Linked DNA regions of Homo sapiens: region 2 is linked to region 1. The links come from fine-mapping of genetic effects on gene expression. A gene starts in region 1. The other region holds a variant in brackets. All regions are shown on one strand. Distances are from middle to middle.

Region 1 (11,371 bases):
GTAAGCCGAGACTGAGCCACTGCACTCCAGCCTGGCGAGAGAGCAAGACTCCGTCTCAAAAAAACAAAAACAAAAACAAACAAAAAGGCCCCAAAAACAAACAAACAAAAAAAACCCATCCGAATGGTTTTCATTATTTTTGTGTCACCTTTCCTCCCAGCATCTTTTATTTATGTAACATTCATTCTATTTATAAATGTGCATGGCTTTGTCCTTGGCTATATTAAGTATATGGCCAGGATGGAGACATAAGAGTTTGGCTTGTTGAATTTATAAATGTCAAAAAGCCAGGAAGGAAAGCTAATCCCTTGGATGACAGAATCATGATTCAAGAAGATCTCAAGTTTTAACTATAGCTACGTTCACGGAGATGAAATTTAATAGGAGGCAATGGTAAAATACTGGTTTAAAAACATCACCTGTGTGTTTATACACAATGGGAGAAATCTAGCTAAGTGTAAAAATGTTGGTTTATGTTGACTACATCAGTGGTTTCCAGACCAATTTTTCAGAAAACAAATTAAGAATCAACATAAGGCTGCCAACTTTTTATTGGTTAATCAGGAACACTAAAATAAAACAAAACCCCATGACCAACATCAAAAGAAACTTAACCTATCATTACTTAATAGGTGTTACTAACACTATCATTTAATAAAGGCCATTTATGAACATTAGAAAAGGAGAACAAAATCTCAAAAAATAGTACCTTGAATTACATAAATATAACTTGAAAAGCCATGTAACATTTCTCTCTCTCTCTCTGCTTTTTGCTTTGAATTAGCAGAGATGACTGTTGTTAAAGAGTTGATACAATTTTAGACTTTAAACACAAGTGTATGGCTTGAAATAAGGAAAGGGACAATTTCACTGCACTTTGCATTCAGACCATAACTGCAGAATTAAATATGGAAACAAGATCAGAACACAAAGAATAGCACTGACAAAACTGATTGAATCCAGCTGAGAGATGTGAGGGATGGCAAAGGAAACCATATGAAGTTGGAGGTGTCCTAACATTTAGACAAGAGAAAATCTAGCTAATATATTGAGAAAAACCTTACTTCATCTTACTCCTAAAGACTGAATTGCAACCAGTGGGAAGAAGTTATATAGTAAAAGCAGCTACTAGCTCAATTTAAGTGAGATCTTCCTATTACACTTTTTGGAAGCTAAACAGGCTTTCCTATGCCCAGGGAAGGGTTTGTGGAGAAGTTGGACCCAATAACATCTCAGAGATATTAGTAGTGGGTGATACATTGTATGAGCTGACTTCTAAAGTTCCCTTGAATTCTAAAATTTTATGAACCAGAGTAAGGAAATAAGTGGTACCCTTTAACTTACTAAAAAAGATGAGTAGAAAGAATTTTGGCTTTAGCCAAAAAGACAAAGGTTCAATTATAGGCCCTATCACTTAGGAATGTGTAACGCAGAGGCAAAGTTATTCACTAACTCTATGCTTCAAATTTTTTCAATGTGTAAAAATAATACCTTAATTTAGAAGTTTGTTGCAGAAATTAAATACACACACACCACACACACATAAACTTCCTGGCACCTAGGAAATGTTCAAAATTTGGTAGGTATTATTCAACGATTCAATAAATATTGTGTTTCAAAGGGTAATATTTTCTATATCATTTATTACTTATGGATATACTTAAAAAATGACTTGTTCTCTGCTATGTGTCATTTGTTTTTCAGACCTCAACAATGCATGCTTGGGATTCTTTTCCACTTCTATACTTTCTGCAATTCCTGTTTGTATGTAAGTAGATTTTATGAGGTTTTCTTTAACTTTGCTTTTGCTGTTTTGTTTTTCCACCTTTATTTGATATAAAAGTGGGCTTTAACAGCAACACACATTGGCTATGTCACTGGCTTTGGCTAAAACATTTCTGCTAAACTGGACAATATATCCAGTTTAATCAACCACACTACCAGACAGATGTTTTTTATCTCTCACAATGGCTAACTCACTGCTGAACACTCCTTTATGAAATTTTTGAGTAAGTAAATAAAAACCTAGGGTATCTGATTAGAAATTTTGGTTATTAATGAAATAAAGATATTTCTTCCCATCAAAAGTATCCCATTTCTTAATGAAACAGATCAACACTGAATGCTCCAGTCAATACTATCTACTCACCAAGCATTCTTCAAATGGCACGTAACTGCTCTTTTGTTATACTTCCAGAATAATTTGCAACTGTACAGATACTTTAGTTAGCAATTAAATATCAGGTTGTCTGTCAGATACTTAGTTGAAGAGTACACTGCTTAACATCCCAGTGTTTGGGACAGATAAGAAAGAAAAGTCTTTACCTATTAATTAGTATAGAAAAAATATTTTTCAGGAATACAATTTTGTGGAATAAAAAACATTTTGACAAAAAAGCTTAAGCATATACAATATTTAGTACTAGATGAGCATTATCTAATTGCAATCAGATACAATAATAAAACTAGTTCTTTTTTTCAGTAGATAAAAAGGAACAAGAAACTGATACTTGGAACAAATCAAATAAATCACGAAGCACAGAATTTTAAAAAGTACCATAACAGCATTAATATGCAGAATGTATGCTAAGGTTTACAGTATAAATTTCACTATTCTAATGTTAAAATAGGGAACAGGCAGATTATTTCCATACAAAATAATCTCAGAACACAATGAAATTTACCAGTAAAATACATTTAAAGCATGATTGAATATAATCCCACATACTGAAATTTAGTTACAGATTTTTAAAGTTGAAATTTAAGATAAATAATAAATCCTTTAAAGAAGTCTATTAAAATGCAACGTAAAATTAAACGATTAAAATTATAAGGGAAGAAAAAAGCACTTTATGGCAAAATCAACCCAATAAAAAACATAAAGTTAATATATCTTAAAATGTAAATTCTAGTTTAAGTTAAAAGTAATCACTAATAACTCATTAATGATTACAACTCATTAACTGTGGCAAAATAAACATCATAGGTTCTTGTTATGCGGAAATTTTATTTTTAACACAGCCTATAGAGTTGATCATCATACTATTATAAAATACTATTGATTTTCAAGAAATAATATTAAAACCTACCGTTAAGTAGCTACCATTAGGTAGTAGGGAAAACACTGCAACACTTCGTTTTTATGAAAAGCACATGTTAGGACATCTTTCCTCATGTAGTAAGTTACTTTATGAAAGTAAAGGTCCATTTTAGGAGGATTACTACTTTTACATCACAAAGGCAAGAACTAGATTAATCACGGTGAGAATCAAGTTCAGTGATAGTCACAGCCTACTCAGGGAGCACATAGAGAAGCTTTCCATACATTTTCACAAGGTAAAAGGGCTAGGGGGACACAGGAAAGATCACTCTGCAGAATGGACCTTGAGTTTCGTTTGGCTCTGCCTTCGATTAACTGTCTGGCTTGGGCAGACAAGTCAGTTAACTTTCTGAGTTTTAGTGTCTTCCTCTGTCAAGTGCACTTGGGCTCTTCCGTGTTATCTACAAAGTTAGGAAGAGCTAAAGGCAGCCCTAGTTTTACTTTTTAAAAAATAATAACAGAAAAATACATAAGTTGCTATTCATCAGTGTACTGTTTCCAGAGCTGAATTCCTAAGTCTCTGAAGCATACCCAGTTAGGGTTATACCAGTGAAGATCCAGATACTATAGTCATAATGTCACTCTCTCCTCTCCCATTATTCCTCCACCTGCTCCTCCCCATCCTGCTTTATTCTCTCTTCTGGTGTGTTTTAAGAAGCAACGCCAGCAAACGGCTGCATACATTGTAAGCTTAAGGATTAAATCATTTTAAAATATGCATTTTCAATCAAATGTATCATCTGCTTCGCCAAATTCCTCCCAAATGGCTGAATTTTCATTAAGAGAATAAAAATGAGTTAACAACTTCGGTAACAGAAATGTACTGGGCCAGTTGTTTTGTTTGTTTTACTTGCTTAAAAAATAAACGGAAAGATGTATCCATTCCCTCAGGAACATAAATGCATTACCTGCCCAATGAAAAAACAATTCTGCTTGTTCATTTCCCTGACACAACAGCTTCGTTGTCAGGCCCTCTCTAGCCCAGGCTCCAACGTCACCTAGTAATTTTATATTGATCACCTTGGCAGTGCTTGGACTCCAGCAGGCATAGTCCCTGTCTTCCTTACATTCCTCAAAATAAATAAATAAATAAATAAATAAATAAATAAAACTCTACGAAACACCACCGAACAGAGATTCTGTGACTTAGTATACAAATCCCACGTCTTCCCGCCCTGTGTTAGGCAGCTGCAAATGTTATTTTTTCATCGCTTGCATAAAATGGAAGCGAAACGTACCAAAACCCTACATCTGAATCCTAGGACAATGAAGCCGACAGGAAGCCACTCTCTCCTCCCCCGGGTTTACTACAGAGCCAGAGCCTCCACGGGGTGCAGTCGCCAGGCAGGGTGCATGACACCGCGTCTTCCACGCCCTCCCAACGCGTCCAAAAGGTTGCTCGCCTGACCTCGCCAACCGCCTCACACCCCAAAACCAATCACACAAAAGGGATTGGCCCGGGGAGCTGCTCCAATGGGGGAAAAATCCCTTCCCCAGCGGCAGCGCAGCCATTCCCTCCAATGCTCCGCCCGCACCCCTCGCAAACTGCTACGGCGGAGGGGGGAGGGCTGCACAAAGCCAGTCGAAAGCTGAAAATGATTCAATGCACTTAGGGGATGCGGAGGCGGCAGCAAGGGGCTCGGGAAAGCCGGGGGGCCGCAGGACTGGAGCTCCGGGGGGCGGCGGGTGGGGGATGGGAAGGGTGGTCCCGTCAAGCCCCGGGTCCCAGGCGGGCAGAGGGTGGGGGTGGCGGCGCCGCGCGGAGCACCCGGGAAGCGCCCCCTTCGCGGTCCAGCCCCGCACCCCCGCCCCGCGGCGGGCGGCGCCCGAGTCCTCGCCGCAAACCCGAGGAGCAGGATGTGGAAAGCAGCCGCGGCGGTGGCTGCGGCTGCGGCGCCTACACCGAGCAGCCGATCGCATCACTTACCCCTTACCGTGGAGAGAGGGACCGGACGGGGGAGGCGGGGCGCGTCGCGTCCCGTGAGTCTCTCGCACGCCGTCCTCCCCCCACCTCGTCGTCGTCGTCGTCGCCGCTGTTGTCGTCGCTGCCGCTGCGGTCGAGCTCCGGGGCCCTCAGCTCCGCTGGGCAATAACGTTATTCCACACACGCCCCACACATAGCGGTAACGGCAAAGACCGACTGCCTAGTGCGCAGGCGCCTCGGGAAAGGGCGAGGAGCCGGACCCTATCCCCTCCTGCCCAGTTCCAACGATCCCTTACTGCGCAGGCGCCACACACAGACAATGAAAAGGGGTTGTGCGAGGGTCTCACCCACACGCTTTTCCAGCTTGCCCACTGCGCAGGCGTGCCCCGAAAGACCAGCTTGAACAATGAAGAGGACCTCGGCGTTAGGTGGGACCGCAACCAACAAGGACTACAGTTCCCAGCGGGCAGAGCGCCAACTCCAAGTGAAGGTCCGGTTGCTGGGCATGCTAGGAGTTGTAGTGTCGGCCGCCTTTACAATCTAGGCTGTTTGGAAGATTTAGAGCTTCTATTTCTTGAAGATTTATTCGACCGTTTTAAAAAATCTCGCAACTGAAGCAGGGTTCAGAGTTTACTATCTGCGTCCTTGAGTAGCCTGGGGATCAACTGCTGCATATTAGCAAATTTCGAAGCGTCAAGGCCTTCAGTGAGCCCTTTCTGTCATTTGGGTGGTCCAGGCAGCTGAAGAGTGGGATGGAGGCGGGACTAAACCAGGCTGGGCTGGAGGAAAAGGGCGGGGCCTGCAAGCCTGTCTCTTGGCAGCAGGCTCTGGCAGCCAAACCGTCCAAGCTAGCGCCTGGAGCGCAGTGGTTTCTGGGAATTGTAGTGTAACTGGAAGGCCCTGAGGATTGTCGAGCTTGCAGGTTCTGAACGTGAGGACTACAACTCCCGACGTGCAAAGCGAGGGCCAGTGGGTGGGAAGAGCCCCCAAGAGCTCTGTGCGGGATTCTAGGCTCCCCTGTGACAGCCGCGGCAGGAAGCAGGCGGGCGCTCCCCGGCCACAGGCCTGTTGTTCTCGGAAGGGAGAAAGCTGGACATTTCCCCACGTAACTCCCAGCTCTGGGCCTAGAGTGCGTGCATGGCGAAGTCCCCGGAGAACTCTACCCTGGAGGAGATTCTGGGGCAGTATCAACGGAGTCTCCGGGGTGAGTTGCTCCAAACCTCTGTCCCTAGCCCCGAGGTGCCCAGGGCCTAGTGGGCGGGAGCAGACCAGGTGCGTTTCCTAACACCTGGGTTCTGCCCCGTCCACGCTACAGAGGAGCAAGATGGATGTTGCTGTGGTCTTGAGGAGGATGAAATAGTTTGATTTAGTTTTTACAGTTAAGCAACGATGTTTCCTCAGATTCCCGTAGTTACCTCAATCAACTCCTTGATCTTAACTTGGCATCTTTCTCAACCGGCGACAGCAGAAACTCTTGGATAGCTCTATGCCATTTTTGTTCAGTTCCCATACGTTGCTATTTAATCCAATAAAAGTCTGATTCACAGTTTTTACACATTTAAATTATGGCACAGTGGATTGAATGTGATTTATGGGATCAGTGGGGGGAAACACTAATAATTATTTTAATCACAAGAGCCCCCTTTTAATTGATTTAGGCTATTTACATACAGTAAATCATCTGCAGCTTACACCAATCGTGTGAATATTTTACACATGGGGAAAGCGAAGCTCAGAGAGGTTGAATTACAGGCCAGAGCCCACACAGCTGGTTAGTTGCAGAGCCAGGTATTATCAGGCTTGCCTTCAAAGCCTATGTTTGTATTTACTAATCAAGCCATAATTACTATTATCAAAACCTTATTAATTTAGATTTTCTTACCACATTACCATATGAGCAAGTATCTGTACAAATAATGTCTGTATTTATTTTCCTTTAAGCTCTGTTGGACTTAATGTCTGTACTTTTAGATGGCGCTGTCAACTTGGACAGCATATATAACATCTAGAAATTTCGATTCTGTTATAATGGAAGTTATGGAATTGTCCATAGGGTTATTGTGGGGAGCAAATGAAATAATCCCCATAAAGCAGTGATTTTAAGACTTCTTAAAATGTTTACCTATAGTAAGAAATAAATTTTATATGGGACATATGTGTACATATAAACTATAAGTTTCACTGAAGAATTTTTATTCTACTAAATGTAATAAACTCTGCTTTCTATTCTGTTGCATTTTCATAAGCCTCTAGGTCATGACTGTTTGCGACATTGAGAATACTAAGTTATGAAGCATGTGTTGTTCTGCATAATATGCCTACTATGTGTCAGTGCCTCCTACTATGTGTTAAGCATACTAGGTGCTAGGCATGCAGTAAGGAACAAGACAAAGTTCCTATCCCCATGGAGCTTCTGGATTAGTTGGGGAGAAAGACAAAAAAAAAAAATAATTATAGATTACTATGATAGAAAGTAAGGGTAAAGATCAGTGCTTACTAGACAAGCACTCATTAAATGTTAATTGTTATTTATACTTGTTACTTAAAGCAAAGTGAAGGTTTTTCAATATTAGAAAGTTTATCTTCTCATGACTCTAGATTTTATAAGGGTTACTATGTATTGTTACATCTGTCAATTGTGTTAACAAACTGTCGACATTCTCAGTATTCAAACTGCAGGAGTAAAAAAATCGGTTTTAATGAACACCTTCCTCAACCTACTGATGTTTCAAGAGCTGTTAGATACAAAATAAGCACTTCTAACTTTTCATTTGGAAGCAAGAAAAATACTGTGCACAATGATATGAGTAATTGTAATTTTTAAGATTGGCAAAAATTTTTTGTTTTCATTGAAAGTTTTTCCTGATGCTTCTCTTCCTTTGACCTTATTTTAAGTCTTTATATAATTGTCGGAGGCTGTTTAACATTAGGCATTTTGACGCAGTAAAGGGGTTCATTTTAAATTAATGTTATAGTAATATGTTTAATACTAGTGGTACTGCTTTCAATAATTACAGAATGAAGGGTTTTCATTTAAGGATAATACATTTTAAAATTAGTTTGAAATAAAATTTAAATTTAGTGTGATAACAATATAAGGTAGTGGAAACATTTCACCAAGAGCAAATACGAAGGATAGAAAAAGTTAAACAACTTAAAAAAAAACGTATTCATAATTTTAACAGTGAATCAGGAAATGTAACCTGAAATGTTTATGGGTTTTTCAGGACATATCATTTATTTAGTAGCACTTTTATTTTTGTATGTTAGCTTATATAACAGCTTCTGGAAGGAAACAAAACAGAATTAACTCTGAACTTAAGTACAGTCAGAAGTTCTTCACAAATATAAATTGCTATTTTTGAGTAGTATAATTTATTTATTTAGAGATGGAGTCTCACTCTGTCATCCAGGCTGAAATGCAGTGGTGCCATCTCGGCTCACTGCAGCCTCTGCCTCCTGGATTCAAGCAACTCTCCAGCCTCAGCCTCCCAAGTAGCTGGGATTACAGGCACGCGCCACCATGCCCGGCTAATTTTTGTATTTTTAGTAGAGACTGGGTTTCGCCATGTTGGTCAGGCTGCTCTAGAACTCCTGACCTTAAGTGATCCGCCCACTTCAGCCTCCCAAAGTCTGGGGTTATAGGCGTGAGCCACCGCGCCCGGCTGATAATTCCCTTTAAAGTAAAGTATTCTGTTCCTTAATAAACAATGCTGGAGTTATGTGGAAATTCCTTATTTTGAGTGTGCCTAATAATTTAAGAATTGTATTACTATGTAGTAAGATAAAATGCAGTTTAAAGTTCTATGTCTTATTTTGTTTTGGTTTTGTTGGTTTGTTTGGTTTTGTCTACCCACCATTACTTCCCCAAATGCCTTGCGTAGTTTATGATTAATGGAAGCCTAATAAACAGTCTTGGTCTTTCCTCACCGGTTTTTCCTCTAGCTTGTAAATAACTGCACATGTAGTCACTACTAATATCCCTTCATTGATATTCAGCCAGGAAGTGGCCGCATAAAAATGCAAAATGCTTTCCCTATTTTCCGTGATCGTACTTCCATTTTAAAAAGATCTTTTCCTGGGGCCGGGCGTGGTGGCTCACGCCTGTAATCCCAGCACTTTGGGAGGCTGGGGCGGGCGGATCACGAGGTCAGGAGATGGGAGACCAGCCTGGCTAACACGGTGAAACCCCGTCTGTACTAAAAAAAAAAATACAAAAAACTAGCCGGGCGTGGTGGCGGGCGCCTGTAGTCCCAGCTACTCAGGAGGCTGAGGCAGGAGAATGGCATGAACCCAGGAGGTGGAGCTTGCAGTGAGCCGAGATCGCGCCACTGCACTCCAGCCTGGGCGACAGAGCGAGACTCTGTCTCAAAAAACAACAAAAACAAAAACAAAAACAAATTTCCTTATTTCTTTAATGTTGGTACTATTATGGTATATCAAAATTTGAAGTTCTAATGTGAAAACTGAGTCAGCATTTACTTTCTTGTTTTTAAAATGAGGTTGGGCGCGGTGGCTCACGCCTGTAATCCCAGCACTTTGGGAGGCCGAGGCGGGCAGATCACCTGACGTCTGGAGTTCGAGAACAGCCTGAGCAATATGGAGAAACCCTGTCTCTACTAAAAATACAAAATGAGCCAGGCGTGGTGGCAGGCGCGTGTAACCCCAGCTACTCGGGAGGCTGAGGCAGGAGAATTGCTTGAGCCTGGGAGGCGCAGGTTGCGGTGGGCGGAGGTTGCAGTGTGCTGAGATCGCGCCACTGCACTCCAGCCTGGGTAACAAGAGTGAAATCCTATCTCCAAAACAAACAAACAAAAAAAGATATTTTCCTCATTTCTTTAATTTTGGTACTATTATGGTATATCAATAATTTGAAGTTGTAATGTGAAAACTGAGTCAGCGTTTACTTTCTTGCTTTTAAAATGAGATCCTTGCCTCATTTTGACCTTGATGATCTTGGAGCAGCTCCACATTCACCTTTCATCCATTCCCTTACACTTTTCAGTGGATTTGCTGTTTGACTTCTCTAAAGATATCTCTTGCTTTGGGTCGCCTATGCCCTTTTACAAGAAATTGGAGACATTTAATGATTCTTCTTCAAAACGAGAGTTCTGGCAGAAAAACCGGAAGGCTTTGTTGCCCCCACAGATCTGTTGTATTATTCCTACATAGTAAATGGTCTGAAAGTTTCCAGTGTGGTTAAAAGTGTATGTGTCCTGGGTATCCTGGGAACCACAGAATTTAATCTAGAACTGGAAGTGATTTGGGAGGTCTCTTGGCAGTAAGGTTAGGTGTTCATTTACTCTATGGGTAGTTATAATTCAACAACCACAGAATGGCCGAGAACTACATTTGTAAGTGGGCAAGATAGCACATGCGCCTTCTCTAAATTCAATACATCGTTGTATAAAGCCAAGAGGTATGAAATGAACTATTTCATAGCCAAGAAAGGGTGAAAAAAGCCACAATTATAGGCAATCCAGGCTCTATTTTAAGTACTGCACACTTGAGTGTAAGGGGATATCAGAAAGGAGAAAAATTGCTAGAAATGCAGTATTTTAGCCTTAATAACAGAATCATGTCTCATCTCTTGCTGCAGCGTTGGGAATAGATAACAATTTTATCAACAACACCTGTATACATGACTCACCTATTCACCTCATTCCTAGCCACCTTTGGTTGGGTGAGTATAAGGAAAAATGAAACAAACTTCTTGTATGACAGGAACTCATGATTTTCTATATACATTTTGCATTCTGGTTTTACCTTTTTCTGTCAACATTTTGGTGTTTCAGCCTTTAGATGAATTTATGGGAAGAGTGTGGTGGGGTCAGAGGAGAGAATGTGGAGCTGGGAGCCAGGTCACTGCACTTACTTTTGCTTTGCTGACAACCATCTGGGTAACCTTAGGCAAGTGAAACACACTGTTCTTGGATTCCCGTTTCCTCAACTGTAAAACGAAAAGTTTGGACTGGATGTGAGAATTATTGCCTTTAGGTGCCAAGCAAATGATCAAAAGGTATGATGGAGTCAGTGGAAGACATTAAGGGAAATGATGAGGCTTATGGCCAAATTGGGCAGTTTCTGCTTTTTCTAAAAACATTTCAATTTCTTCCTTGCTCCCTCCCTCTTTGCTTCCTTTTTTTTCTTCTCTCTTTTTCCCTCTTTTCCTCCCTCTTTTCTTCCAAGAAGGAAGCCAAGCAAAACACACCCAGAGCCTGATTCCCCTTTAGACACCACTCTCTGACCCTTTGATCATTAATGTTCCTTCCATCAGCACTTGTTTGGACCAGATGAATGATTAAGGGCTATGTTTTTGTCTTATGGAAATGAGAGTAAGGAGTTGA
Region 2 (11,371 bases), 230 kb after region 1:
CTTGCTTTCACAGTATTCATAGCAAATGAGTGTCTGAAGCATAGGACCAGAGCTGGCAGCTTGCACCGCTTCTGTTTTGCATAAGATATTTTCCCCAGCCCACTCAGCTCTATAAAGTTGTTTTGTATTTCACCACTTGCTCCATCTTATCTTGAAGCCTTGCATATTTTTTTAAATGCTGGTTCTGATCATGCTTGCAGGGTGTGGCTCAGAGGATCGCTGTTGGACCAATGGAGATCTGCCTGGGCCCAGCACTCTTATGAGTCCCCTGTGATTTCATCAGCATCTGCCTTTAGAAACCCGGGCGTGTTTGTTCCCATGGTAACTGCTGCCCCTGACACGCCTGAAATTCCTGGGATGCCCTTGCGTGGAAGGGGAGCCCGTGCTGCCCATTCTACCCCTGCATGGGGCAGCTGCTTTTCTCCCTCAGGGTCCCCAGTCCTACCCAGGCAGGGGTGGCAGTTGTTCATCTGCAGATCCTGAAGGACATGGACCCTGTGCCTGAGATTAGGACGGCCGCACCAGCCTGGGTGCAGGCTCCCTCAAGTGTCCTTCCTCATGGACCCGCGGACCCTACGCTGTGCTGTGAGGGCCGGGGAGCACAGGGGCTTCCTGGGAGGAGGACTGGCTTCCTGCCCCTGATGGGGCCTGGCCACAGCTCCCAGGGCTCCATGACAGCACAGTGAAGATAGCAACCACATCCTGGGGGCCCTGGATGCAATCCCTGCCTGTTGCAAAGATGAGATAAAGGCGCGGGAAAGAAGGGTCTGAATTAGGGGTTGAGCTCTGAAATCGGACGATTCTGTGTTTCCTGCCGCATGGAGGGCGTGTGTGGTTCGCAGGCTGTGGGGGGCTTCTTGCAGCGGGGGCTGCTGCCTAAACAGACTCCGCGGGCCCCATGATGGCAAACCCCCTCGCCCCGTTCATGACTTAATGCCTCCTAGAAGAAAAGGCTAAAAACAAGACACACAGAACAAGAAATTGCACTCTCTCAAAACGACAGTCGCCCTGAAACGGACGCTGGAAGAGGTTTCCAGGCCCGTGGCGACGGTGAGGGGGGTGAAGGTCGCAGGTGGAGGGCACGGGGCGGCGGCTGCGGAGCCCGGGGAGGAGGCGGCGGGCGCCCGGGTCTTCCTCGGAGCGCGCCCCCTGGGCTGGGCGGCGTGTCCCTGCCTCCCGCCGGCGCCCTCGTCCCCGCAGCAGCGTCCCCGCCGCCACCCCGCTGCCTCGTCGCCTTTCTCGCAAACAGCGGTGCCCTCTACGTGGGGGATCCTGGAGGCTGCTGAGCACGAGCGCCCTCCGCGACCCGCCCCTGCTCCCGCCTCCACTCTTGCCTCGGGGGGAGGGTCTCAGTCTTCTGCCTAAGGCGCCCTCCTCCCTTGGGAAGTCCGCCGTCCTCTGCCGTGAAGATTGCCCCTCTCTCCTCCAGTGCCTCCTCCCCAGCGGCTTCGGTGGCTCCCACCCTCCGCACCCCGTCTCGCGACCTCCCCGCCAGCCCAGCCCCTCACCAGAAGAGGCTTTCTCTTCCAGCCCCTGAAATCTGGCTTCTGCCCCAGCCAGGAGGCTCCGCAGGGCGCTCCGCCACCAGGTGGCATTTCCCACAAACCGGCCACTCCGCCCTGACCCCTCTCCTCCCTGGACCTCCGTCTCCCAGTTTTCCTCCCTCCAGGATCCCACTCTCAGTGTCTTGCCGGATTCCAGTCCACTGCCAGCCATTGAAGGCGGAGGTTCCTTAACCCCTATCCTGGGGCGAGCCCTTCCCTCTCACTGCAGAAGAGCTTCTCAGCTAGGGGGGTCGTGCGGGCCCGGAGAGCTGCATTTTTAACAAACTCCCCACACTGACAATCTTTGCCAACCCTTCCCAGGCAAATCTTGCCCCCACGTTCATGGTCTCGCCTCCCAGCAGGTTTGGCCCACCCAGCTAGAGCTCCAGCTCGGCCCTTCCTAAGCCCCAAGTTGCATAGCTGCCTGGTGGGTGCGTGTTCCACAGGTACCTCGGACTCGCCCTGACCCCAGAACGTCTCTTCTACGCCAGGCCGATCCCTCCTGCCATCCTCTGTCTGTTAAATGGCACTGCCATTGCCTGCAGGACGAAGTCCATATTTGCTGGTTTGGCTACAGAGTCCAGCGTCGCCTTCCTCTGAGCAGCCTGCAGCCTCTGGTGCAGCCACACTGCACAGCTTGCAGTTTCCAGACACGCATTGGCCTTTGCAGTGCGGCCCCGAAGTGGGAAGGCCCCGCCCCTGGCCCTGGCCAGAAAAGCACCCACTCATCCTTTCCCATCCCAGCTTGCCCGCTGAGTGACTTTGAATCAATGATTCATGTTGTCTGTGCCTCAGTTTCCTTAACCTTAAAGTGGCATAATAATTAGTTCCTGCCTCATGGAATTGTGAGTGCTAAATAAACAGTAAGTCTAGTGCCCGACATAAAAGTGCTCAGCATACGACGATCATGAGCCATGTCTAAGCAGGCGCAAGCCCTCCCAGGCTTCTCATCTGCAATATTGGCCATTTCTCTTCATGCCTCAGTGTCCTGTTTGAGTTGAGCATGTTTTTTTTACAAGTGAGTCTCTCCTCCATTGGCCGGGAACCGCCCGAGAGCCGGGAGCATTTGTCATTCTTGATGGACCCCCAGGTCTTAAATCAGTACTTGACCCTTAAGAGGTGTTGGCCGGGCGCGGTGGCTCACGCCTGTAATCCCAGCACTTTGGGAGGCCAAGGCGGGCAGATCACGAGGTCAGGAGTTAGAGACCAGCCTGGCCAACATCGTGAAACCCCATCTCTACTAAAAATACAAAAATTAGACAGGTGTGGTGGTGCGCGCCTATAGTCCCAGCTACCTGGGAGGCTGAGGCAGGAGAATTTCTTGAACCCAGGAGGCAGAGGTTGCAGTGAGCCAAGATTATGCCACTGCACTCCAGCCTGGGCAACAGAGCAAGACTCCATCTCAAAAAAAAAAAAAGAAGAAGAAGCAGAAGAAGAGAGGTGTTTAGCAAGGCTTGGTTCGTTTGGTGAATTAACTCAGTGAGTTAACCACCATTAACGATGGTTAAGGACACTTGGGCGCTGGCTCGATTTGACTCCGAGCTTTACCGATTACTTGTGTGACTTTGTGCAAGTTAATTAACATCTCAGCTTGTTTTCTCATCTGTGAAATGGGGATGATACTAGCATGTACCTCCTAGGACTATAGTGAACTTTTAATTAAGATAATTATTGAATTTAACAGGTAGTTTATTAATGAAATTTACATAGGTAATTGTGGCGCAGTGAGCCCAGGGGCTCAAGGTGTTAGCAGTCATCAACAGTGCTATTTGAAACTGTGGGTGGATGAAGAGGTGAACTCAACACCACAAATATGACAGAGCAGTAACCACCATGGAAAAGAAAAGAGAGCTTATGTGTCTAGGACACCCCAAGAAATCTCTTCTGAATGAATGATGGCAATGAAATAGCCATTAACAGAGGGTAGGCTGGTTTGTGCAGGGTTGGAGGCTTTTCCAAAAATAAATAACTTTCAAAAAATCTCAGCCAGGCGCGGTGGCTCATGCCTGTAATCCCAGCACTTTGGGAGGCTGAGGTGGGTGAATCATGAGGTCAGGAGTTCAAGACAAGCCTGGCCAAGATGGTGAAACCCTGTCTCTACGAAAAATATAAAAATTAGCTGGGCACGGTGGCAGGAGCCTATAATCCCAGCTACGGCAGGAGAATCGCTTGAACCCAGGAGGCGGAGGTTGCAGTGAGCTGACATAGCACCGCTGCACCCTAGCCTGGGCAACAAAGCAAGACTTCGTATCAAGAAAAAAAAAAAAATCAATCTCGGGCCGGGCGTGGTGGCTCACGCCTGTAATCCCAGCACTTTGGGAGGCTGAGGCGAGTGGATCACTTGAGGTCAGGAGTTTGAGACCAGCCTGACCAACATGGAGAAACCCCGTCTCTACTAAAAATACAAAATTAGCCGCCGTTGTGGCACATGCCTGTAATTCCAGCTACTCTACTCGGGAGGCTGAGACAGGAGAATTGTTTGAACCCGGAGGCGGAGGTTGCGGTGAGCCGAGATCGCACCATTGTACTCCAGCCTGGGCAACAAGAGCAAAACTCTGCCTCCAAAAAAAAAAAAAAAAAAAAAAAAAAAATCTCTTTTCCCAATATTTGTAATACTGGGAGTGTTCAAGTTGATTTAAAAATTGAGTCAATTGGAATCCATCCTCAGCTCTTAGCTGTGAAGGGAGAGCTGCCCCTTCTTAGGGATCTCACTTCTCACAGCAGGGGTGCTTCTGTGTGTGGACATCCTGGTCAGCTGGTCCCCTGCTGTCTTGTGGGGCTCACACCCAGGCACTTGATTCAGCGGGGTCTGGGTGGTGTCTCCTTCCTCCTTCCCACCCCAGTAATCGCTATAGCCTTCCCAGGCCCCCAGGTTGCAAAGCACTCTGGACTAAACCTCCTCCAGGTTCTGAGGGCTCCATAGGAGGAAGGTCTAGGCCAGAACCGGCCCCATCGCTGAAGGTGGAGCCAGGGTGGCCGGCCGTGACCGGTGTTTATGCTGTGAGAGCGGCTTTGGCCCTGCCCATTGCCCTGGATGGGCTGCCATCCCTTTTCAGGAGTTCAAAACCACATACTGAGCCCATCGGTCCAAAGGACCATCATCTCATTTGATCCAAGCACAGGGCAAGGGACCACATGGACAATGGCTGCTCGTGGCACCTTCTTGCCATGCAGCCATGTCATGGTGTCACTTGTCACGTTTCCTGGCACCTTCTTGCCATGCAGCAATGTCATGATGTCATTTGTCACGTTTCTGTTCCATTCTTTTCGAGCAAGCAGGAAGCCACGGGGCTACCTCAGTTGCTCTTAGCCAGTAGCTCTCTCCACAGGTAGGCCTTCATCGGAGGGGAAAAGCCACCTTAGGGTTCCAGAGCTCAAGGGCGAATGATGCTTTCCACCCACTAATTTAAATACGGAAGCATCAGATTGTCTGCTTCTCAAGGAAAAGAGCTGTTACCATCTCTGTCTCTTCAATGGGACCCACTCCTGGGCCCCACAGCAGGGCAGGTGCTCAGATGAATGGTGGCCGCCTGCCTGTGTCAGAGGGTCGGCCTAGGCAGGTTCCCCAGTCCGCTGGCCCGGGACGTCCTCCTCTCTCCCGGCCGCTCACTGTTCAGGACAGCCCGGGCCCCCCCCTGGGGCCTTGCAGGAGAGCTTCTGTGATCCACTGGGTGGCTTTGAGGGTAGCTCCCAGGAAAGGCTGCCTCAGCCCCAGCGTGATGGGGACGGGTAGGGGCCGATGAGGCTTCCCAGAGCAGCGATGGCCTTAGGTATTGCCAGAAGGAAACCTACTTTTCCTCCAAGATCAGAGGGAAGGATGAGGTGGGGTGTTGGAGCATCACCATATATATACATCACACACACAGGGAAACACTCCTACTTGGATGGAGGATCTTTGCTGTTCTGTTGAGGCCAGCCTGATCCTGGAGGCAGGGCAGGGCCTGGCTGTTGCCCAGGCTCCAAAGAGGCGCCAGGGCGTCCCTTAGTCCTTACACTTTCTCCAGAACCTGCGGGCAGCAGGAGGCCCTTGTCGGGACAGGCAAGGGGGGCGGTGGTGCGGAATTGTGGGCGTGGCAGTCGGAGG[T/C]GCCAAGCCCGGGGAGGCGGGGCTTCCTGGGAGCATGCGTAGTGCCGGCTCTGCCTGGGCGGGGTCCTAGGCTGCTGCTCCCGCCTCCCCCGGCACAGGTAGGGCGCCCCGCAGACCCGGACAACGCTGGGTGTGGCTGAAAACAGGGAGTCATGGTGCGTTCTGGGGAAGGGTCAGGGCTGGGGGCTCGGGCCCCTGGACCAAAGACTCTAGCCAAATCCATCGGAGGCTGAGCAGGGCGATGGGGCAGGGCCGGGGGAGCCGTGGGGAAATGGGAGGGTGTGGGCCGAGCAGCGCCGGAGGCAGGTACCGACCATCGCCGGGTTTCCCAGAGGGCAGTGGTACCTGTGCCCACATGTGCGGCCTTTTTTGTAAAGGAACCTATCCCAACCCGAAGGCCCAAACGTGTGGCCGTGTAAGTTTAGTTGTGCCCGGAGTCCCAGGAGAGCCCGGACTGAGGGCAGCCAGAGGCCGGTGTCCGCAGAACGGCCCACGAGGCCTTCGGCTCAGTAGCCTGGAGTTTGAAATGCACCTTGAGCTTTAATGGCCTTTTCCTTGTGAGAATTCGAGTTAACGTGCCTGCTGGTGCTTTTGATGGGTGAGGACGGTGAGGCAGGCCACACATCTCGCTTCTTTCCAGAACACTTCTGGGTAGTCGTTCAATTCCACATTTAATCCAAAGCCAACAGTTCCATGGGTGACTGTGCTGCTGGCTGTAGGAAGCCGACTGTGGACAGATGAGGATAATGGTCTGAGTGAATTAGCAAGTCTGGAGAGGAGCGCCCATCAGCAGAATGACAAATTTAGGATCTTTAAAGACATCTGGTCAGCGATGCCGGAGCTCGTGATTGACTGAGTGATTAATAATGGAAAACCCTTACTTCAGTGTTTCCACGGCCCTCACCCACTTCCCCAGCCGGGGCGGCCGTCTGCTCAGCCTGCCAGAGACCTTTCCAGCTGAACAATGGCGGCATTTAGGCCCCTCATCTTTGACCTCTGCTTGGGAGTTCAAAGCTTCCTTTTCCTTCTACTTACCCCACTTATCTGCGTGTTTTCTAATTGATAGTGTACTGAGATGGCTCCCAGTTCCCACGCACATTTGCTAGAATGTTACCTTCACACAGTGCGTACCAAGGACCTAGTGCCAGCCAGAGCCTGGCACCTCAGGGTCACCCTAGGCGTCCTGCTCATGGTTCCCTATCAGGGGCTTCCCTCAGATACACACAGCCCCTGGGCCTGTTGAAAGGCTGACGTTATCCCTCTTTAATTCTGCGGTGGATTTTTCTCCAGGCTAAGGCAGCTGGATAAGCACAGCCAGGCCACAGCCCAGCAGCTGGTGCAGCTCCTCAGCAAGCAGAACCAGCTTCTCCTGGAGAGGCAGAGCCTGTCGGAAGAGGTGGACCGGCTGCGGACCCAGGTACTGTGCAGAACGCGGCGCAGGTGGGAGTCCTTGGGCGGGCGTCTACAGGTGGATCTTTTATGCACCTCAACAGGCCGGCTTTCTCACGGATCACATCGGTTAGCAGTAAGCTGGGAGGGAGGTCCCGAAGACTGTGCTGGGCACAGTGCAGGACCCAGAGAAGCGGAGCCATGGGCCCGTCCTGGTGAGGGAGTTAAAGTCCGTGCAGGTGAACAGACCCCGGCCCGCGAATCAACGAACCACACCGAGTGCCAAGTTGCGCCGTGCAGGCTGCGGAGGGTGCGAGAGCAGGGAGAAGCGGGAGGACGGCCGTGGGCGGCAGAACAGGCTTTTTGGAGGATGGTGGCCTTGAGCTGCCTCTGAAGGTCGTGTATGGTTTGAATTGGTTGAGGAAAGAGGTGTTCCCAATTAGCAAAGTCGTCTTGAATGGAAGGCAGGCATCTCATCCTAAATTAGCTGACTGATTACTGGGCTAATATCTGGAGTGCTTGCAGAGCACCCGGCAGTGTTACACACAGAACATGCATTAATTCCCTTTACCCTTGAACAAGCAGGCGATGCTGACTTTATTGTCTTCATGGTTTAGATAGGGAAACTAAGGCCCAGACAAGCATTACAGCTGGCAAGTAGGGACACCGCAAACGGAGGCTAAGCCTGACTCCACAGCCCAGGCTTTCCCCATTCAGGTTAGATCCGGGGCCACCAGCAGGGAAAAGGGAGGAAGGAAAGTGTCCCGGTGAATTTGGAACACAGTATGAAACCTCGTTTGCTAAATCGCTTCTCTTCCTGTCAGAGAGGCTGTGCATTTTGCCCCGTCAAGCAGTTTGTTAGGATAATGAGGTGGTCCGTGGGCTGACCAAGGCCTCCGCCTTTAATTAGGATTGCACCCAGGTGCTCTGTGAGTGCCCTGGGGACTTCAGGCAGTAAGTGCTTGGAATGATTAATATGAAAAATGCATCTGGAAATGAAAACGAAGAGGAGTCTCATTCTCCTCACAAAATGACCCTGTGCTCAAGGAACCTGTAAGTACTGACTTTTCCCACTCGGTCCAAAATCCCTCTGCCAAACATGTGTTCACAGACAGTAAATGAGCACACCCAGGCGCCACGGAGCTAAGGCCTGGAGGTGGAAATGCCTCTACTGTCCCCATGCTTCTGAGACTGCTCCCAGGGACTGTGGGGGAGCGGGCCGCTCAAAGTCCGAGCCACAGCCGCACTGCCACAGCTAATCTAGGAGGCGAGGCCTCACCTGGCACGCTCCATGGCAGGGCCCTGGAACCTGAATTTTGCCAAGCTGTTGGGATGATTCTGGACGACACTACATTTTGAAAACCTCTGAAGTGTTTGGAGCTGGAAAGAACAGAGAATTATTCCAGGTTGTGTCACTGTGCTGAATCCCCTGCCCCCGCTTCGGACAAGTAACTTAAGCCTTTTTCCAGCCTCAGTTTCTCCTCTGCACAGTGGGCATGGTGCACGCCTGGCTTCACGGGCTACTGGGAGTGCTGAGTGCAGGCGGGATGCCCCACGGGCCCTTGGGCACACAGGCTGAGGACGTGTGAGGGTGTTTCCTTTCTCCCTCATCTTCAGAGGGTCCTGGGAGAGGTTCAGGGAAGGCAGAGGCCTGCAGAGCAGCAGCTGTGGGACCAGTGCCACTCCCCTCCCCTCTGCTTTCAGGATGACCCCCTCATCCTCCACCAGACCCAGCCCAGAACCCAGCCCTGTGGGCAGGTCCCCAGGGAGGGCCCCAGCAGCACCTGCTTTAGGCCTGGCCAGCCAAAGATCAGGACCACTGGAGCCACTAGGTCTCCTGGCAGGTGACTAGGCTCTTGTCACATAGGAGGGAGGGACCGTGACTCCTGGCATGAGTGAATCTTCAGCCTCTAAAGCCAAGAACTCTGTCAGACCTCAGGTTGTGGGGAGTCTTCCGTGGAAGCTGGAGCACACGGCAGCTTCCTTTGGGCTCTGGACTAGATCAGGAGAACGTGGGCTTTGCCTTTTAACTCCCCATCTGCCTGCTTTACAGCACACTTAGATCTTAACATGGATCACCGATGCTTAGAAGCTTCTTCCAGGGCTTTAAAAATCTGGCTATTGCCAAATGAGTTGCAAAATTTTCACAAAACGCATTAAAAAAACCCCAAACCTCAAAAAATCCTCAGAAAAACTAGCAGGTCTTTCTTTCTTCTTTTGCCTGAAGCAACAGCAATGATTTGCCCATTCCTGTGCTATCTGATACTGGCCCATCTGGCTCATCTCTAAAGCGGCCTTTCAGATTCAAATATTACACTTGGAGTTATTTTAATATGAACATGACAAAAGAAATTTGGTAGAGGGAATGTTGGCTTTCAGTTGCAAATACTAGTGGTCAGAGAGGAGGCAGGGATCCAGGTTTGCAAGCTCTCTGCTGAATATCTAAACCCAGAGCCTGCTTTTTCTGGCTAAGCCTGGCCTTCACCTCTAGGTAGGGGCTGTCAGTGGGCTTCAGCCTCTGCGATGCCTTCTTGTCATGGAATCAGCTTGAGTTGTGAGTTAGGCTTCTGCTGAGCCATGATGTGGGCGAGGCTGCTGTAGGTTCGAGCAGGTATTTTGGATGCGGTGCCGCCTGAGGGCTCCGGAGTGCTCAGCCACCCTCTCTGTTTTCCTGGAGTGGCCTGTGGGTCCAGATCTTGGGCAGCTGAGGGTTAGAGCTGTCCTCATGTCCGGGTTAGAGATGGTTTAACTAAAGGCTTCCGTTTTCTCAGCCTGGATGAGTTAAGCTTAACTTAATTTTGCATGTCAAACTCTAAACATCTCTGTCCACTTAATACCCAGAAGAGAATGGGTCGGGCAATGGTTCCAAAGCAAAGTCCACCCCTTTCCTTCCCTCCCTGTCCTGGGTCCTGAGCCCCGCTGCCCCTGGTGGTGGGGCTCAGGCTGGCCTGTGGCCTCCAACAGGAAGTGTCTAGCCTGTTGGCAGGCTTCATTATTCTAATTGTTTCTGCTTGAATTCTGAAACACTCACAACAACATGGCTGGCAGAGGGAGCCCCTGGTAGTGGTAGCTGCCACATGGATGCTTTTGGCCACGAGAACCCCCATCCTCCCCGCTCCCCGGCGCTGTCTGCGGTGGGCAGGACTCAGGGCACTGGCTCAAGCTCTCGGCTCGTTTCTTGGCTTTTTTTTTTTTTTTTTTTTTTTTGAGACGGAGTCTTGCTCCGTCACCCGGACTGGAGTACAGTGGTGCAATCTCTGCTCACTGCAACCTCCGCCTCCCGGCTTCAAGTGATTCTCCTGCCTCAGGCTCCCAAGTAGCTGGGATTACAGGCACCCACCACCACACCTAGCTAATTTTTTTGTATTTTTAATAGAAACGGGGTTTCGCCATGTTGGCCAGGCTGGTCTTGAACTCCTGACCTCAAATGATCCGCCCACCTTAGCCTCCTAAAGTGCTGGGATTACAGGCGTGAGCCACTGCGCCCAGCTGTTTTTTTTTTTTTTTTTTTTTTTGATGAGTTTTGTTCTTGTCGCCCAGGCTGGAGTACAATGGCATGGTCTTGGCCTACTGCAACCTCTGCCTCCTGGGTTCAAGCAATTCTCCTGCCTCAGCCTCCCAAGTAGCTGGGATTACAGGTGCCTGCCACCACGCCTGGCTAATTTTGTATTTTTAGTAGAGACTGGGTTTCTCCACGTAGGCCAGGCTGGTCTCGAACTCCTGACCTCAGGTGATCTGCCCACCTTGGCCTCCCAAAGTGCTGGCATTACAGGCATGAGCTTTGCCCGGCCTCTTGGCTTGTTCTTAGTTTAGGGTGACTACAAATAATGGCATTATTGATCTCCTGCCTCACCTGGGTTCGGAAACAACTTCAAGAAAATAGCTTTTAAATGTCATGAAATGGCTCTTACTTGTCCTTGTGGAGAAACAGACACTGAAGCACTAGCCCAGCTTTGCCTAGATGCAGTTCCCCACACTCTGTATTCCGGGAGGGTCAGGGCCTCCAGACACACACCCTGGCCTGTCTTTTGTTTGAGACTGGGCTGGGTAGTCGCACTCTCGCCCTCTTGAGAGGCAGGCCCTGGCTGGGGGAGGCTGAAACCTTGGTGGTGGGGGTGGGGGGAGGGGGATTCGGGGTGAGGGTGGTGGGTCTCAGGGGAGTTTGGGCAGGGCCTGACAGCTTGGAGCAGGGTCAGGGGTCTGCGGCCCAGAGCCTGGGGGCTCTAACATCTGGCTAGGAAGGTTGGAGCCAGCTGGTGAGGAAACATGAGTCTTGGGGAGAATGGCATCTGGGACAGGGGAAAACAGAAATTATCTGTCCACTTAGAGGATGGTCTCAACCATCAAGATGATT

The links.
Region 2: its variant is fine-mapped to the expression of SDCCAG8 in sun-exposed skin (GTEx, PIP above 0.99). The same link has a PIP of 0.9 or more in unexposed skin.

What each region holds. Positions count from the first base shown.
Region 1 is chr1:243,250,013-243,261,383 of GRCh38, forward strand. It overlaps SDCCAG8 (SHH signaling and ciliogenesis regulator SDCCAG8), which reads left to right and starts at 6,029. Exons shown (of 18, transcript NM_006642.5): 1 at 6,029-6,228. The coding sequence starts at 6,162. CEP170 (centrosomal protein 170) reads right to left here and starts at 5,269. Exons shown (of 20, transcript NM_014812.3): 1 at 5,028-5,269.
Region 2 is chr1:243,482,096-243,493,466 of GRCh38, forward strand. It overlaps SDCCAG8 (SHH signaling and ciliogenesis regulator SDCCAG8), which reads left to right. Exons shown (of 18, transcript NM_006642.5): 17 at 6,919-7,045. It also overlaps a transcript of AKT3 not described here. Among named protein-coding and RNA genes, the nearest start is that of MIR4677, 140 kb to the left of the region's middle. RefSeq lists enhancers at 58-673, 1,996-2,554, 7,744-8,267, 8,268-8,791. The variant T/C (reference allele first, on the strand shown) is at 5,629.